Linked DNA regions of Homo sapiens. The protein of the gene in region 2 interacts with the protein of the main gene of each other region in a pairwise test. Each region holds a gene or a part of one and is shown on either strand. Other genes may lie near its edges.

What was found. The genes of interacting proteins can lie anywhere in the genome.
Region 1: the proteins of EDA (region 2) and PLN interact in binary tests that used the Homo sapiens proteins (3 or more experiments, as listed by UniProt).
Region 3: the proteins of EDA (region 2) and GIMAP5 interact in binary tests that used the Homo sapiens proteins (3 or more experiments, as listed by UniProt).

The regions. Positions count from the first base shown.
Region 1 is NC_000006.12:118,551,296-118,558,295, forward strand, and holds part of PLN (phospholamban), read left to right. Parts: intron 1-7,000. UniProt on the Homo sapiens protein: Reversibly inhibits the activity of ATP2A2/SERCA2 in cardiac sarcoplasmic reticulum by decreasing the apparent affinity of the ATPase for Ca(2+).
Region 2 is NC_000023.11:70,032,010-70,039,153, forward strand, and holds part of EDA (ectodysplasin-A), read left to right. Parts: intron 1-1,388; coding exon 1,389-1,519; intron 1,520-2,071; coding exon of another isoform or gene 2,072-2,191; exon of another isoform or gene 2,192-3,037; intron 3,038-3,348; coding exon 3,349-3,600; 3' UTR 3,601-7,144. UniProt on the Homo sapiens protein: Cytokine which is involved in epithelial-mesenchymal signaling during morphogenesis of ectodermal organs. Functions as a ligand activating the DEATH-domain containing receptors EDAR and EDA2R. May also play a role in cell adhesion.
Region 3 is NC_000007.14:150,740,418-150,744,146, reverse strand, and holds the end of GIMAP5 (GTPase IMAP family member 5), read right to left. Parts: intron 3,269-3,729; coding exon of another isoform or gene 3,263-3,268; coding exon 3,220-3,262; intron 1,965-3,219; coding exon 1,084-1,964; 3' UTR 501-1,083; downstream 1-500. Other genes in the region: GIMAP1-GIMAP5 protein, read right to left, coding at 1,084-1,964, 3,220-3,268. UniProt on the Homo sapiens protein: Plays a role in T lymphocyte development and the optimal generation of CD4/CD8 double-positive thymocytes. Inhibitor of GSK3A, possibly by sequestering GSK3A in cytoplasmic vesicles and impairing its translocation to the nucleus.

The sequences.
Region 1 (7,000 bases), on a different chromosome or scaffold from region 2:
ACTCCATCTTTAGTTTTCAACCCCCAACCCCCGCACAAAAAAAAAGGTTGACTAACTCACTCACATTAATAGGGGGTATATTTATTAAGTGGCATTCATTTTAAATCCTTAAGACTTTCTCAATACTACCTCCCCATATTCTCTTCCCCCAGAAAAGATTCTGAATTTCCAACTCCTACAGGGTTAAGAAGAATATTTTACTTGTAAATACACTTGTAAAGCATTGTTTCAATATTTAAAAAACAATAATGAAGGCAAACCTACAGACAATATAGCAACAGCAATAAGCTAAATTGTCAGTTTTAGAGAGAAAAATATCTCTGTGCTGTTGTTTAATGAATTCTCCTCAAGACAGAGCTTTAACATGAGAAGCACTTCATTATGGGTCAATTTAGGAATGAGAATATATTGATTTTTATGCATATACAATTATTTTCATAACCAGACAGAAGCAGCTTGAAGATTCTTTCAAACAGCCAGTCTGGACCAACAAAGCTCTGGAATGTTGCTACCACAAAGTAACTTCAAATAGAATGTCCAAGTTTAGTATTAGGCAATCTCAAAAGGAAAATGACTCCACTGGAGTGAACTTTTGTAAGCCAACAGATTCATCGTAAATCTAATGATGAACTGTCCTAATTTATTACCACAAGTCCAAAAAAGGGTATATGCACATTCACTTATGGCTTATCAGTGGAAATGTCAGAAAGTAGTAGAAAAATAAAATTCCAAACAATCCAAATATAGACAAGTCCTGTTTATTCAATCTATAGAAAATTCTAATCTTCTAAACCAATTAGATGGAAAAAACATCCTAGAGTATATCAGACTGTAGCCTTAGATATTACTTGAATTCAATTTAATAAAGTATTTCTTCAGTACTCCCATGTTTACTAAAAGAATAAACAAAATTAAAAGGAGAAAAGCAAAATTCTAAATTCTACAAACATAAAGAATCCCAGGAATTTATTATTTCAGCAAAAGGAATACCACCAAAAATACTGAAGTTTGAGAAGTTCTGCAAGAAGTGAACATACTTAAAGTATAGATGGAGATTAATGCTCAGCATATACAACATCATTAAAGTATCAATTGTCTAGCAAGTCATAAAGCAGGCCACCAAAAGTTTTCAGAAGACTATTGAGGTTCCTTCCGCACAAGAATGCATCTGATATTACATTGCTAAAACAGGACTCACTGCAGACAAAGTAAGGACTCCTGAAGGAGTTGATATATAGTAGCTTCCACCAAACATGTTGCCTAACATGGTATATGACATTAGTCAAAAGATTAGAGTTGCCTAATGGCTTTTCTATTTCCTTCTTCCACCTCAAAAAAAAAACCAGAATACCATCTTGAACTTGATTTTTTTTTTAATTTCCAGCGTTACTTTTCTTGAGGAAAGGACGACAACCAAAGGATTTATAAATCCCACAAAGAATAGTAAAGAATTCTTTATTTTTATTCTTCTCATTCCCCTAAAAAGTAGAGTAATCATGGATCCACAGACATAAGATACTCTGTGGATACTTTCCTGCCTCTGACATGTAACTCAAGAGACAGGAGTCTGGCATTTCTACACCCAAACTCCTAACAAGCACCTTTCATGTTTTCAATACTCTTGATTCTAGGGCCTAGAAGACAATTTGATTTTAAAATTCATCTATAAATGAATACCACTCTTGTGTCAAAACAACCAATTTATATATATTGTCATTCTTTTAATAAAAGGGTGGAGAGCAGCTTCAGTTTCCATGGTTGTTTAGGCCATATACAAGTTCAGAAAATCCCAAAACTATTTATGATTAGACTAACAGAATGCTCTAAAAAGATCAGATAACATGAAAATAAAACTAAACTATTTTTGTATGCTTTCCATCGAAAAAGTACTCTATTAAACAGCTTAGCTGTTAAGAAATTAAAAAAAAAAAAAAAAAGGAAACTCATACAGTGGTTGTCAGTGCAGAGAAGAGAATGATAAACATCTGACAACCATGCCATAAATTATAATGTAGTAAAGGTCACAGACAACTCCAAAAATAGGATTCTGCTGTTCCCACAACAAAGGTTTTCAATTCTCAATGTATGACAGGAAGCCCCATCTTCTATGGATAAAATCTGGCCTAATTATCATCATACAAATGTTGGTATTCAGTAGAACTAGGATTCCACACATTTCAGATGATAACTGTAAAAAATTGAGCCCAATAAATTAAATGTATATCATTAACATTTTAGCGTGTAAAGCAGATTTAAGTTTAGGCATAAAATCATAAAGTAGTTACAAATAACTTTAGGATTATGGCATATTTCTAAATCTGACAAGAAACAGGATACTATTTTTGGTCATCTCCTTTACACCCAATTTGTTTCCAGAAACAAACTCTTCTTTTTCAATAACAGTTAGCTGTTGTAGGATTATAAGATCATCTTTAAAGTATGTTAACTATGCTTTAAACAGTAAAGAGCTCATCTCTTTAGGGCATATCTCTGTATTTCACAAATACTAAAAACCCATTTATACAAAGCCTAGTTCAGGTTAATACTGTGTTAATCAGGTAACCATTAATTTAGGTGAATCCTCTAAGCCTCATTTTTCTCACCTGTGATAGAAAGAGACTTGAGGAAAATATTAGAGCTTACATGTCCAACTAACAAATTGTTATTAGAACTAGTTAATCTGTCAATCACAGCATTATTTTTAAAATTGTTTAACTTATTATTAAAAATGAGGGCCAGGCATGGTCATTCACACTTGTAATCCCAGGAATTACCTGAGCTCAGGAGTTTGAGACCAGCCTGTGCAGCACAGTGAAACCCTGTCCCTACCAAAAATACAAAAATTAGCCAGGCATGGTGGCGCACACCTGTGGTCTCAGCTACTCAGGAGGCTGAGGCAGGGAGATCGCTAGAGCCTGGGAAGTTGAGGTGCAGTGAGCCACGATTGCACAACTGCACTCCAGCCTGGGTGACAGAGCAAGACCCTGTCAGTCATTCATTCATCCATTCATAAAAACAATTAATTAATTAAAAATGAGATGGGGTCTCATTATGTTGCCCAAGCTGGTCTCGAACTCCTGGGCTCAAACATTCGTCCCGCCTAGGCCTTCCAAAGTGTTGGAATTATAGATGTGAGCCACCATGCCCTGCCCACAGCATTATTTTTAATTAACAATTTTCTAATAGTTTTAGTCATAAAAATCCCTTATTTAACTTTAGTGATTTATTGAAGCATACCAATTATGCACTAAGTACTAGGATACTAAATAAACACACAGTTTCTTTACTTCAGAAACTATCAGTCTAGCTGGGGATACAAACATGTAAATTGAAATTGTGCTATAATCTGACAGATATCCTCATATAGATAACACTAAAGCCCTATTAAAAACCAGTAGAGGTGACAACCAATTCCACCTTAATAACTAATGAAAGGTTTCACTAGGAAGTGATATTTAAACTGAACCTTAAGAATCAACTGAAGCTTGCATGGCAGACAATCAAAAGGTGGAGAACACATTCCAGGCAGAGATAGAACAACATGTGCAAAGAACAAAATCACAAAAGGGAATGGAGTATTTATGGAAAGGTGACATGTTTCATGTGACTGAAGTACAACTTACCAGTGTCAACGTAGGGGATGACTCCTGTATATGCTTCATGATAAACTCCTGGCCAACTCCCTCCTTTCCCATGTTTTGTCTCAAAATAATTTTTAAAATTTCTGACCTTTTAAGACCACTTAAGCCCAAAAACCTCACAAAACCATATGTTCAAATAGGAATTACCAAGTCTAATTATTATTCCTTTCTTAACTGTATTCTGCTACACATCTTCATAAAAGGTGACTACTCGGCCAGGTGCAGTGGCTCACGCCTGCAATCCCAGCACTTTGGGAGGCCGAGGCGGGTGGATCACGAGGTCGGGAGATCGAGACCATCCTGGCTAACATGGTGAAACCCCGTCTCTACTAAAAACACAAAAAAATTAGGCATGGTGGCGGGCACCTGTAGTCCCAGCTACTCGGGAGGCTAAGGCAGGAGAATGGCGTGAACCCGGGAGGTGGAGCTTGCAGTGAGCCGAGATCGTGCCACTGCACTCCAGCCTGGGCAACACAGCAAGACTGTCTCAAAAAAAAAAAAAAAAAGTGACTACTCAAATATAAATAAAATCTTCCCATAATTTTCCAATCCACTAGATCTACAATAAGCAAATATCAACATAAGCAAATATCAACATAAGCAACTTAAAGGATGAATCTCAATAAAGAACAAAAGAAAATCTATTTATATTTTACCTGAAGAATTCAAACAAAAGTCATTAAATATATGTCAAGTTTAAGCTGCTATGTCCCTTATTTTTAACTTTTGTTTTAAGTTTGGGGGTATGTGTGAAGGTTTGTTACACAGGTAAACACATGTCATGGGGAGCTTGTTGTATGTATTACTTCATCATCCCGTTATTAAGCCCAGTACCCAACAGTTTTCTGCTCCTCTGCCTCCTCCCATCCTCCCCGCTCAAGTAGACCCCAGCGTCTGTTGTTTCCTTCTTTGTGTTCATAAGTTCTTATCATCTTGCTCCCACCTGTAAGTGAGAACCTGTGGTATTTGGTTTTCTTTTCCTATGTTAGTTTGCTAGGGATAATGACCTCCAGCTCCATCCATGTTCCCGCAAAAGACATGATATCATTCTTTTTTATGGCTGCATAGTATTGCATGGTGTATATGTACCACATTTTCTTTATCCAGTCTGTCACTGATGAGCACTTAGGCCGGTTCATGTCTTTGCTATTGTGAATAGTGCTGCAATGAATATTCATGGGTGTATGTCTTTACGGCAGAAAGATTTACACTCCTCTGGATATATACCCAGTAATGGGATTGTTGGGTCGAATGGTAGTTCTGCTTTTATAAGCTGCTATTTTCTAAGTAGAAGTGTTATAGACAACCTAAATAACAGCCTTTAGCCACCTGTTTAGACAATGAAGAATATATGCTAGAAAAATACAGGTAGTTAATAACTCTTTAAGGAAAGAAAATTTGATAGAAGTTGAGTGTTTGGAACTCCTTGCTACAGACCAATATTATGAAGGGGGACAGAGTCTCAAGCCAAAAATGCCCAGTCTACTATATAATTCAGAATATAATAGACCCAAGTTGAACACTACAGAATCTAAACACCATAAACCATATGGTTTCTTTGCCAAAGTAAATGCCGGGTTCTAACTAGTCATGCCTGATACTTACCTTCCCCTTTGCCATTCTTTCAGCACTTCCTTCTGCTCCCTTCAGCACTTTCCTCTCTCAGGAATGGGCTAACAGGTTGAGATGGGCTTTTATGGGATGTATAAAAGGACTTAGGAGAAAATAAAATCTGACACCTGGGGTAAGGTAGTAATATGTTGATTAACAATAATATATCAACAAATGTTAACAGTCACTATGTCTGGCAGTTAATTACTGACTTTTTTTCTCCGTTTTTCATTTTTCTTATTTCAAAATTGACACATAAGTATACTGATTGAAAACAAAATGTCCCCAAGTGTTAATAACGATTATCTCTGGACAGTTAATACAGTTAATTTTCAGTCTATATATAATTTTTCTGTAATGACATGTAAATTCTTATTTTATTAATCATCAAAGTATAGGCCCCACAGGCAGCAATAGCTTGTGGGATCTCTGAAAGAAGGCATGATGGAAACTACTACTATTAAGTAGAAGTCTGTAAATAGGATATGTCTGTGGTAGTGAGATAATAATAATTACTATGTGTTCCAAGCTTGACAGTCTTCAGTACTTAACATCAAATCTTATTAAAATGTTACTTAAGATAACATTCTATAAAACTATAAAATCATAAAAAGGAATAACAATTTGAATCTATATTTTTGGTAAAACACTTCCCATTTAACACTATTTTATTTTAGATTAAAATTAAGATCCAGGGAACAATTTGTTGTATGCATTTCCTTTTTATGAGATTGGCTCTGGAGCTATTAATACAGTGACTGATCAAACCAATTACATCTACAGAGTAACAGATTTAAAGAAACTATATGTTAGAACTTTTACCCAAAAGAATAACCCAAAACAAGCTGTACCTTAAACCAAATACAGCAGGTCCTCAAATAACATCATTTCTATGTCATTTTGTTATAACATTTAAGTATGTGTGGGGCTTGCATATTCTCCCCACATCTGTGGGACTCTGGTTTCCTCCCATATCCCAAAACAGTGCACATTAGGTTCACTGGCATGTTTAAGTTGTCCTGGGTTGAGTGTGAGTGTGTACATGAGTGTATCCTGTGATGGAGTGGCCTCCTATCCAAGGTGGGTTCCTCCCTCCTTGAGCTGCTGGGATTGGCTCCAGCCACCAGCACCCCAAACCAGAATAAGAGGGTTGAAAAATGAATGAATGGATGAATACAAATTATTATCGAATAAAAATTGGTAAAGTCTACGGTGATCATACAAATGCATGACAATAAACGCTATGGCACAAAAGCACTCAGAGATCCCACCGTATTTGAATTGTTTTTGATCTGCATGGAGCTGGATGTGCTCCTGACAATTTTCATTTCTCAAACATGATTCCATGTTTTTAATAGACCACCACAACCACTGTTACTCACTGATTCACCAAATACTGGGTAATTATCTTTGTTGGCTTTTTTTTTTTTTTCCTGGGACAGAGTTTTGCTCTGTCACCCAGGCTGGAGTACAGTGGCATGATCTGGGCTCAATGCAACCCCTGCCTCCTGGGCTCCAGCGATCCTCCCAAGTAGCTAGGATTACAGGCACATGCCACCAGCCTAGCTAATTTTTATATTTTTAGTAGAGACAGGGTTTCACCATGTTGGCCAGGCTGGTCTCAAACTCCTGACCTCAGGGGAACTGCCCGCCTTGGCCTCCCAAAGTGCTGGGATTACAGGCATGAGCCACTGCACCTGGCCTATCTGGTTTTTATTAATCTTTCTTAAATGTATACATAGTTCATA
Region 2 (7,144 bases):
GCACTTTGGGAGGCCGAGGCTGGCGGATCACATGAGGCCAAAAGTTTGAGACCAGCCTGGCCAACATGGTGAAACCCCGTCTCCACAAAAAATACAAAAATTAGCTGGGCATAGTGGCACACACCTGTAATCCCAGCTGCTCGGGAGGCTGAGGCAGGAGAATCACTTGAACCCGGGAGGTGGAGGTTGCAGTGAGCCAAGATCACACCACTGCACTCCAGCCTTGGTGACAGAGTGAGTGACAGTCCATCTCAGAAAAAAAAAAAAAAGAAGAAGAAGTGATGGGGTCAGGGGTTGGAGGACGTCATGCAGAGTGGTCCATTGATGGGACAGAGCCAGGGCAGCTCCTAGCCCATCTACTTACCACCTCAAGGAAAGATGGTCACCTTTTCCAGAAAGGCTGTTTCCTCACCCCTCAGACAGGCAGGCCTACTGAAACTGGCCAAAGATGGACTTATAAAATATAATTTCTTGGGTGCAGGATGGATGGCTTAGAGGGGAAAAGGCTCCCTGGGCTTGGATGTCCTCCTCTCATGGTGGGAAGGAACATTCCTCTTTCTGCAGGATGGAAAGAGAAGTTTTTCCTCCATCCTCACACACTGGCTTCCGCTGTCCAAAGGAGTGTGACTGCCCCCTCCACCCCTGCCTGGGGTGGGGCTGAGACAGATGCTTTGCCAAGGGTGGCTCGGCTCCTATCCTCCCAGCTGGCTCTATTGCAGCCTGCCAGTCTATCCTTCACTCTCATAAGGATCCCTCTCACCTATGGGGCCCTGGTACTAGTGGTCAGTAGCCCCAGTTACCATGGAGTCTGAATCATCTCTAATCCCTAAGGTTCTCCAGATAGACAGTGGGCTGAGTGGTTTCCTCCCAGGGAGGCTTTCCAGAAAGCTGTGGGTGTGGAAGAACCGTAAAAAAGAATCTCTTAAGGAGAAAGAGAAAACCCATGAACCTATGAGATGAGAGGGATTCAGGAGCTCTGGCTGGGAAAGTAAAATTGAATAATAAGACCTAGCCTGCCACTCAGTGTCTGAATTTTGCCTGTGCAGGCCCCATAACAACAAAGAAAATAGGGCAGCATGCCCACTCTCATCCTCCACCGGCAAATTCCAGCTAGAAGGTATTGGTTAAAGACCCTTCCAGATGCAAGGGTCAAGAAAGGAAGGATAAAGACAGACAGGCAGAGCCCAGGAGCCCTGAAGCAGGCCTGGCAGCTGCTTTACAAACAGAACAGCTTCTCTGCTTTCAAATGCTCTTCTTAAAGTTTGGCCTTCTAGGCTACCCTGGTTGCACTGGGATAGGGGTGGGGGTTGTGAACTCCTTGGTATTTATTTTCTGTTGCCTCGATTATTCTGACATGTACTGAGTGACTGCCCTTCTCTCATACTGAGATCTTTCAGGTGGAGTGCTCAATGACTGGTCTCGCATCACTATGAACCCCAAGGTGTTTAAGCTACATCCCCGCAGCGGGGAGCTGGAGGTACTGGTGGACGGCACCTACTTCATCTATAGTCAGGTAGAAGTGAGTACGGTCTTAGGCCTAACTCTTCTTATATCCAGAATGCAGATCCGGTGCAGGCCACATAGGGGCACTGTGGAGCCAGCCAAGACCATCCAATGGCTAACTTCCTGCTTTGGGTGAGGGGGTGGGGGGACCGCACTGGGAGGGAGTTGAAAGGAGGAAAGAGAGAGGGGGCCAGCTTCTTTTGTTTTGTTTTGTTTTGTTTTTCCTTAGCCAAATATTATTGAAAAACTGTGAAAAAGACCCCTCCCACACCCTGCCATCTGATTCCCTCCTGCAGGGCCTCAGGCCCCTGTTTACCCTCTGAGCTGTTTGGCTGCACTGCCAAACTTGAACTTGGTCTCAGTACATTCTTTGAAAGTCAGTTCCAGGGTTACTGAGAACCCTTTCCCTCAACACTGCTGGCTCGGACGTTGTAATGAATAGTGCTCCTGCAGACTTTCTTTCCACCTCAAAAAGATTTCTGACTGTCTTTCCTTCCTCTTTCTCCCATTTGTTTCCCTATCTTTCTATTCCTCTATTCTTGCCTCCTTCCTGCTGTCATTCTCCCAGCCCTTTCTCCCTCTGCTTTTGTCCTCTTCCTGCCCTGGGCCCGCTCCCCAAGTCCACCAGTGTCCATCTACTTCCGTTCCCCCATTGTTTGCCTCCATGGGAGTGGCTCCTTGGAGATAAAGGAAGATGAGCCATGAGGTTGGGATTTTTGTGGGATGGGCAGCAAGCAGGCAGGTGGACAGAAGGACTATGGAGCCAACAGATGGGTGTCACATGAGAGCGGCCAGAGAAGGTGGGCTAACAAGCATCTGCTAGGCACACTGAGCACCCCGCTGTAGCTTGGGTCCTGACCCGTATATGGCACCCAAATATGCTGTTCCCACCTGAAGAGCTGATAGAGGGAGTGACCTTTCATAAAATGATTTACGGTGATATCTGAGAGTCCCAACACCCATGGGGCACATGGGCATAACCCTGATGTCCTGTGAGCCAAGTTCCACGTGGTGGGGGTGGGCGGCAGATCAAAACTTGGTGTGAGGTATGATGGATAAGGGTAGTGAAGGATGGAAAAATTAATTTTCTGAGCCTAGGAGAGAATTGAGAGTGGCCCATGCAGGCTGGGAAAATCCCCATGACATTAGGCCACTGAGCATAAGTTAGTGCTTCCTTCTGGCCACAAAGTTAGGGGCCTGGGCTTTTCCAAATTCTTTGTCTTGTTTGTGGTAGCTAGCTCTCGATCTCTCTGGACCTGTTTCCTCAATCATCAGATGGGAGGCCCAAGGGGCACTGTGAATCAGTGAGGGGAGTCCAGGCCCAGGGGAGGGGTGGTGCAAGCTGAATAAGCTTCTGTTAAGGAGCTCAAGAAATCACAAGTTGTTACATGCCCTCTCTGGGGAATCAGTGACTTCTAAGTTTCTCCACAAATAGTCCGTGGGGCTCAAGAATGGAAGTCAGTTTGTGTCCACGGCACTGTGTACACACCTGCTACGTGCAGAGCACTCTGCTTCATGTCAGGGCTGGGGCAGGGGTGGGCGGGGGAACAGGGGCACGGTGAAGCTGCAAATAGGGCATGGTTCTTAGCCTTACAGAGTTTGCGACAAGTGTGCTGTTGTAAGAAAAGTTTGCTCAGCCAGCTGAGCCCCATGGACTAGGGGAAGAACAATGCCTGTCACCTGTCCTTTCCTGTTGGCCAGCTAGCACGCCTTCACATGGCACTGCCCCATCCATGGGGTATACTAACAGCTCATCTGAGAAGATTCTGTCAATTCACCACAGGGAGGGCCCCCCACCCTCTCTTTCCTCTCTTCCCCAATCCCTTCTTGTTGCCTCTCACTCAGGTATACTACATCAACTTCACTGACTTTGCCAGCTATGAGGTGGTGGTGGATGAGAAGCCCTTCCTGCAGTGCACACGCAGCATCGAGACGGGCAAGACCAACTACAACACTTGCTATACCGCAGGCGTCTGCCTCCTCAAGGCCCGGCAGAAGATCGCCGTCAAGATGGTGCACGCTGACATCTCCATCAACATGAGCAAGCACACCACGTTCTTTGGGGCCATCAGGCTGGGTGAAGCCCCTGCATCCTAGATTCCCCCCATTTTGCCTCTGTCCGTGCCCCTTCCCTGGGTTTGGGAGCCAGGACTCCCAGAACCTCTAAGTGCTGCTGTGGAGTGAGGTGTATTGGTGTTGCAGCCGCAGAGAAATGCCCCAGTGTTATTTATTCCCCAGTGACTCCAGGGTGACAAGGCCTGCTTGACTTTCCAGAATGACCTTGAGTTAACAGGACAGTTGATGGAGCCCCAGGGTTTACATGAAGCAGAACCTTCTTTGGTTCCATGTTGACTGACTTATGGCATGACTCTTCAACCCCGAGGTCCCTGTTGTCAGATCTATTGTTTGTTGCACTAAAATGAGGATCCAGGGCAGCAGGCCAGAGAAAGCAAAGGTGCACTCCAGACTCTGGGGGTGGACATCTGACCCCAAGGGGGCTGCTGCTCCTCTCTTGGGTAGGGTAGTGGCTGGGGTGGAGTGGGAAGGGAGCATTGCAGCCTAAGAAGAAGGCCAGAGAGGGAAAAGGCAGGTGCTTTTGGCAGAGACCATAAGAGAAACCTGCCAAGGAGCATCCTTGGCAGTGGGAATGTTCTTTCTGCTCTATACTGTGGCCTGCAGGAGGGTTGGAGTGCTCTTCCCACTCCAGCTGACAGCCACACCGTGGCAGCTTGCTGGGCTTTGGGAAGTTTGCTGTGCTTTGGAACAATCACAGGGAATGGCCACAAACCTGCCCGCCTAAGACCCTGAATCCGTACTTGGGTCACATGACTCTCATTTTATTTACAGCTGTGCTCCACACTCAGAAAATTCCCTGGGGTCACCTTCTAGTTGCCCCCATTCCCAGCCTGACTAGAACTCCTGTCTTCTTTCTCCATGGAGCCTACCTCTGTCTGAGACAGGTGCCTAACCTGGGACCTGTGGTCATGTGAGTCTGGGATATTCTTTAGCTTACCTGGGCACAAACAGAATTTTCCATTTATTAAGCAGTACAAATGTTTTTCATCCATTCCTAATCAAATTCTGTCTGGGGACGAAGGGTTGGACGGGATGACCTCCAGAAGTCCCTTCAATTTCTAGTACCTGTGACTCTTAGCCCTCACCACAGCCTTCTAAATTCCCAAATCCTAGACTGCTCCTGGGCATTAGCAAGGCAGAGCCTTTTTACCTGGCCTAGAAAGGGCAAGGGGTGAGGATAGGACAGAGGGATTTTGTTCAAGTTTGCTGCAACCCAAGTGGACGTTAGGCCAGGCCTTATCTGAAAGGCCAGCAGCTGATGCTGTACTAACCCAGTCTTTCTTCACTCTGGCTTCAAAAAGCCACAGCAGAGCATTGTCACCGCAGGTGCTCATGCTGCTCCCCTAAAGCCAGGCTCAGGAGAAGCCAGTGTCTAGGCACTGAGCAGGGATCTGCCCCCTAGTTCAGGTCCAAATTCACCTTCCCCTAAACCCCAAGCTTCCCAACAGATCATATGGTAGGACCCTCGAGAGCCTTACTTCAAAGTGCCTGGGCTCAGCCTGGTTTCTGGGTGCTAGATCCAGCCCAAACCTGGGAAGGCCAGCCTTGTACAGTCTGCTCCTCTTGTTCCTGAAATGTGTTTCCTTTTCAGGAGATGGGGAATAATTTCCTTCAGGCAGCTGAAATTCACCAAGAACAGCGGGTACTTATTTCTCAGCTGTGCCTTCCCTTTCTAAGCAACCACACTGCTTGGCCCTTCAAGGGTCAGGGTGAGACGTGATGGGCTAGGCCTCCGTTGTCTGGTTGCTAATGACAGCCTTGCAACCCAAGGTGAGGTGAACTCCAGGCATGTGTCTGGCCCTAACTCCTATAAAGTGCCTCGGACAGTCCGCAGTTGTAGCAGAAACCAACAAGAACCACTCCTTCATGTTTGGAAAATAATTTCTCTTGTATTATCTCCTTTGAAGAAGGCAAGGCTGATAATATGACAAACATCATTGTTTAGATGAGGCTCAGAGAGGTAGCACTCTCAGAGTGTTTTGACCAGTTTAAGCCGCAGACCTGGAGCTTCAGCCAGGTCTGACTCCAAAGCTGTTCCATTACACCACAGCATTGTGTGGAATTTGAGGTCTAGAGAGAACCAATAAAAGTGGTAATTGGGAACTGAAATCCTTGAGAGTTCCGGGGAGAAACCCAGAGATGCCTGATTTCATTCCTCGATGGTAATACCCGTCCTCTCGGCTGCCAGGGGCTCTGTGGCAAAAAGAGTCAGACATTTCTTTGGAAAACAGCGAACAGCCTTAGAGCTCTTGTGTTCAGAAGAATCTTCCTGGCACAATGTTGGAGCAGCAGGCCTCTGGGACCCACAGAACTTGTGGCCTTTATGTTCTTTCACCCATCCTAGGAACCAGCCAACCATCATGTGTAGAGCCCCTACTGTGGGCAAAGTCCTCCTTTCATTACCCTACAGACAGCTTACAGGAGCCAGCCTGCTTCCCACAACTACTAGTGTGACTCCTTATCTCTTTCCACCATACCTTAGAGACTTTGATACTACCAGGGTCTCTCAGGGATGGAGGGAAGACCTGAAAGAGAGGACTGGTTCTGAGGCCAGAAAGGTGTGAGGAGAGAGGAGGAAAAGTCTTCCTAATTGTGCCCCTAAAGAGCATCCTGATACCATTCTATTCTCCAGACATGGAGGGGATGATAAAGGAAATAGGATCTCCACTGGACCCTTGATTCATTCTGAACCCTCCAAAGGAACTCTAGAGGGCGAGGGATGATGAGGGAAGCAATAGGTAGCTGGGGAGCCCTATTGCTGCTAAGTCATTGGCAAAGTGACAAAGCAATTTACTGATGAGAGAATGTGGAAATAGATGTGCAGTTTGGAATTATGTTGGTGTGAATTTGCCAGAGGACCAATGCTTGCATGGAGAATGGGACGAGGACATTTGTGGGCAAGCAGATGACAGAGGTTTGAAGGAGAATGGCATGGCAGGAGTCTCTGCCAGTTACTTGGGCTTCAACAGCCAAGCTGGCACAAAAGACAGCTGGCGGAGGCTGCTCGGCTACTGGTTACCTGGAGAAGTAGTATTTGCCTATTTCCCCCTTCATCCATCCTGAGCCAAATTTCTTTTGCTGAACAGGAAAGAGCTAGGAACCCTGGAGGTAAACAAAGACTTTGATCCATGTATGAGTGTATGTGTTTATGTAACTTCCTGTGGATGCAAATAGATTCAGAGAAATTTAGAGCTAAAAAGGCCCTTAGAGGGAATCTAGCCCAACCTACATTCCACCCTGTTACTTATGTAGAAACTGAGGCCCAGAGAGGGAAGATGACCTGCCCCAAGTGGTGAGCAAGCACCAACCTCCAGACTCAGCAGAGTGAGGGGGTAAAGCAGTTCCTGTCCCACATGGCCATCTTCTTTCTTCCACCCACAAACTCCAGGCTGGAAGTACTTGGCCCCCTTCAGGAGCCTGGCCAGGCAGGGAGAGAGTAGCTGCAGCCTTCATCAGAACTCTTCCTCCTCCCAAGGCATTCTCCCAGCTCTAGCCTCTGGACTGGAAAGCACAAGACTGGCCCAGTGCCAGCAAGTCCTTAGGCTACTGTAATGCTGCCTCAGGA
Region 3 (3,729 bases), on a different chromosome or scaffold from region 2:
CAGGATTGCCTGGTACCCAGTCAACAACCTGTCCCCCACCCCCACCCTGTGGACATTGACTTCCAAAGAAATAGAGCTGGAGAGTTGATCCAAGGACATTTTACAGTGGAGAAGGAGAAAGAGTTTGCTTAACCTTTCTCATGTGTGAACATTTGCCAAAGTGATTCCTTGCAGAGCATTGAAATGTGAGCTGTGTTTCTTTTGGGCCCCTGGCCAAACTGAGAAGAAAGCACAGAGAAAGCCCTGCGTACAGGGCACCCCATTTCCTTGACCCTCTCCCACTCCCATTCGTCAATGCAATCCATCCATCTGAAAGTGTTTTGCTTTACTCAGAGTTCAGGGAATGTCCACTATGTGGCAGGCACTTCAGTAGGAGCAGGAGGTTCTTCCTAATTTTAGGAACAAGAAAAGCCAACCCTGTTCCTTTATTCTAGATGCCACTTGCTCAAAGGAAGCATGTGGACTGGGAAGTTCCAACAGATTTAAAGGATAAAAAGGAATGTGGAGAAATTTTTATTACTTTGAATGTTTTAGAATGCAGGTAGAAGAGACCCGGAGCTCAAATAGCTTAAATAAGTAGGAAATCTATTGGCTAATACAACTGGAAATGCGGAGATAGGGCAGGCTGCAGGGCTGGTGGCTCAGGGCTCAGGGGGCCCCAACTCTCTGTGCTGCTCTGAGGCACTGCCTTCAATCTCAGGTTGGCAGCACAAAGCTGCTGAGAGTCCCAGTGTCACGCCCAGACCCCACAATGCCAGGGAGGAAGACAGGTTCTATCTAAGGAGAGATCTTCCATCCCCACCTCTGCGGACTTTTACTCACTTCTCAGGGACCTGCATGGGATCTCAGGCCCATTCCTGAAGCAGTTGTTGGCAGACAGAGTGGAATAGTGTTTACAGCAGGCAGGCAGCCTTGGAGTGGAGGCACACAGCTCCAAGTCTATCAGGAAGAAGGGGAAATGGGAGCTGCACAGACAGCAAGCAGCATGCTCCATAGACCACGAGGATCTGAGTCTGAATTGGTGATTATTAGAACAATGACTCCATGGGGTGATACATTAGAAGTGCTCCAGGGTCCAGAGATTTAAATGTAATGAAAGATGAACAGAAAAATAATGAAAAAAAGTATGCTGCACAACAATAGAAAAACAAAAATCTCATAATGCAAAAGCATCAAGTGTTTGACTCTGAGGAGCGCCTTGTATGCCCAGTTACTCTCGTTCTCCCTCAGCTCTTGCTTGTGCTTCTCCACCTGCCATTCCACTTTGGCCTGGTACTGCCTGTAGTCTTCCTGGCAGGCCCCAGCTCCAGTTCTTTGGAGCAGCTGGGCATCCAAGAAGAGGTCATTGCTGTGGAAGGAGCCCTCTCGCTCCCTCCCCAGCCTCTCAATCACAGCCAGGAGCTCTGCCTGCTGCTGCCTCTGCTCCTCCACAGAGCCCCAGTTGTTGAAGGCACAGTACCTTCTCTCACACTCCCGCACCAGGTCTTTCAGGCTGCAGTTGTCCGTGTTTGCTACATAGTCATCCAGGGCCTGGCCCCCTAAGTCCTCTTTGTGGGTGAAGAGGATGACCACATGTCTCATGGCCCCTGTCCCAAAGACCTCTTTCACCTTCCTGATGGCCACTGTGTCCTGAGCAGTGAAACGCCCCAGCTGGATCACCAGAAGCAGGACGTGGGGCCCCGGGGCAGAGAGCAGGTAGCAGTCCCCGATGTTCTTGTACAGCTCTTGGGTATCGGCCTGTGACTCAAAGATGGAGGGCGTGTCAACCACCAGGACTTTCCTCCCGTTCCATGTTCCTGTTTTCACCTGGCACGTCCTGGTCACTGACTGGGCCCTCAGCTTGGACTCAAACACGGGCTGGCCAAGGATGCTGTTCCCTGTGGCACTTTTCCCGCAGCCTGTTTTGCCCACTAGGATAATCCTCAATGCCGGTGGTGTTGCAGACAAGTTATCTTCTGATCTACCTGTAGAAAACGAAGTTTTGTATCTTACTAAGTTAATGATTCTTAAGACTGTTAGGTCATTGTTCATGGTTATCTCATGAAAGCTATGAACGTCCTCCCCAGAATGACAGACATATTTATGTGTACATAAAAGTGTGCATACAACTATAGGTGAATCTTGCATGTAGAAAGCCCCATTGGAAGCCCATGCTTGGATCCACAGCCAGGAATTAGAACTGTTGCATTAAGGGGATGCTTTAAGCACTTCATCTGGATTGTGGCAAATAGAGCTTTCCTGAAAGAAAATGGTCCTTGTGTTTTCCCCTGCGTGGTGTTTAGGCCAGCTCCATGGAGAATTATTAGAAAGAGGCAGGGGATTAGTAGTTACAAGTGAGAAAATCCAATTACTTCTCTTTCACCCACACATTTCCAGGCACACTTGTATAGACACACTCCACACATTCATCCAAGTCTTGAGGGTCAAGGAGGTCTCCACTGGCAAATCTATAGTGACCCACTGCCGGGGGTCAGCTGCCTGTCCCTGGGTCTGTGCCCTCTGGATAGGGAGTGAAATGTTTGAAATTGAGATGACATAGGTTGTAGTTAATGTTAGGGCAGCGTCTGGGAGATGACCCTAGGGTGGATGGCTCAAAAAGGTGGAAGATAAGCTCAATAGAAGCATGTGTGTTGAAAAGCTCATCTATGTGGCTGATTGAAGCACACAAAATTATAGCAGAAGTGGTGTTGGAGAGGGTGACACTGTGGCAGGAGCGAAAATCTTCAGGCACGAAGAGGGGAGAACCTGTGGATTTCTAGAGCCCAAATGAATTCGAAGTGCATTTTAGGCTCTTAAAAATCTATTATTTTATTTCTCCCACTCTGGGTTGGTTCTTCGTTTTCTTAAGTTATTCTGTGGTGTTTTGTAGCAAGCACAATGACTAAATCCCTATGGGGACCTTTTCTTTTTGAGCTGTCAGCAGACAAAGAAAGAGAAAACATATTCACCATTTGCTTCCAGACCCTTCAACCTATGACTTGGTTTCCTTTCCACATTTCCCACATACCTGATGCAGGGAGAGCATCACACTATGGTGTGTGTGTGTGTCTGTGTGTGTGTGTGATGGTTTGATAACACACACGTGATGATAGTTGCCTTTATCTTCTTCATTTAAAATGAATGGGTTTCTGCCACTGTGTTTTAGATGGGGGTAGATGGGGAGAGAATTGTGATTCTCCCAAGTGTCTGGGGCTCTTGAGAACTTCAAGACTTTCTTACCTTCAGCCATAGTTCCATATTTGCCCCTCTGGAATCCTCCCATTCTCTCCTGGAATAAAAACAGGAAAAGGATAAAAAGCAGATGTACGTTTGGGAGCTGGTAGAGCCTGAGGGCACCTCAATTCAGACATCTAAGAATAATCATTCTCAAATGAGCCATTTCCATCCCTAATTTTCTAACTCATACTTTACTTTGAAACATCTGTAAATAACTTTAAACAAAGCAGGTGATGTTAGATGTTAGGTTATGCTAAAATAGTGCACGATTACTTCCCTCCCCTCAACTTACAGAAAATCAGGAAATATTTTGAAGCAAATCAGTTGATTATCTCCCCCAACCAGAAAGGCATGAAATGGAGAAAGCATTCTTCTATGGAACAAAGAGTAGGCATTAAAAAAATTGAAATTAAAGTAACAAACTTACCAGAATAGAGAAAAAAAAATTGCCTTGCTGTAAATAAGATTGGTTTATTTGAAGTAGTGGAAACTTCCAGTCCCAGAAAGTCTTTG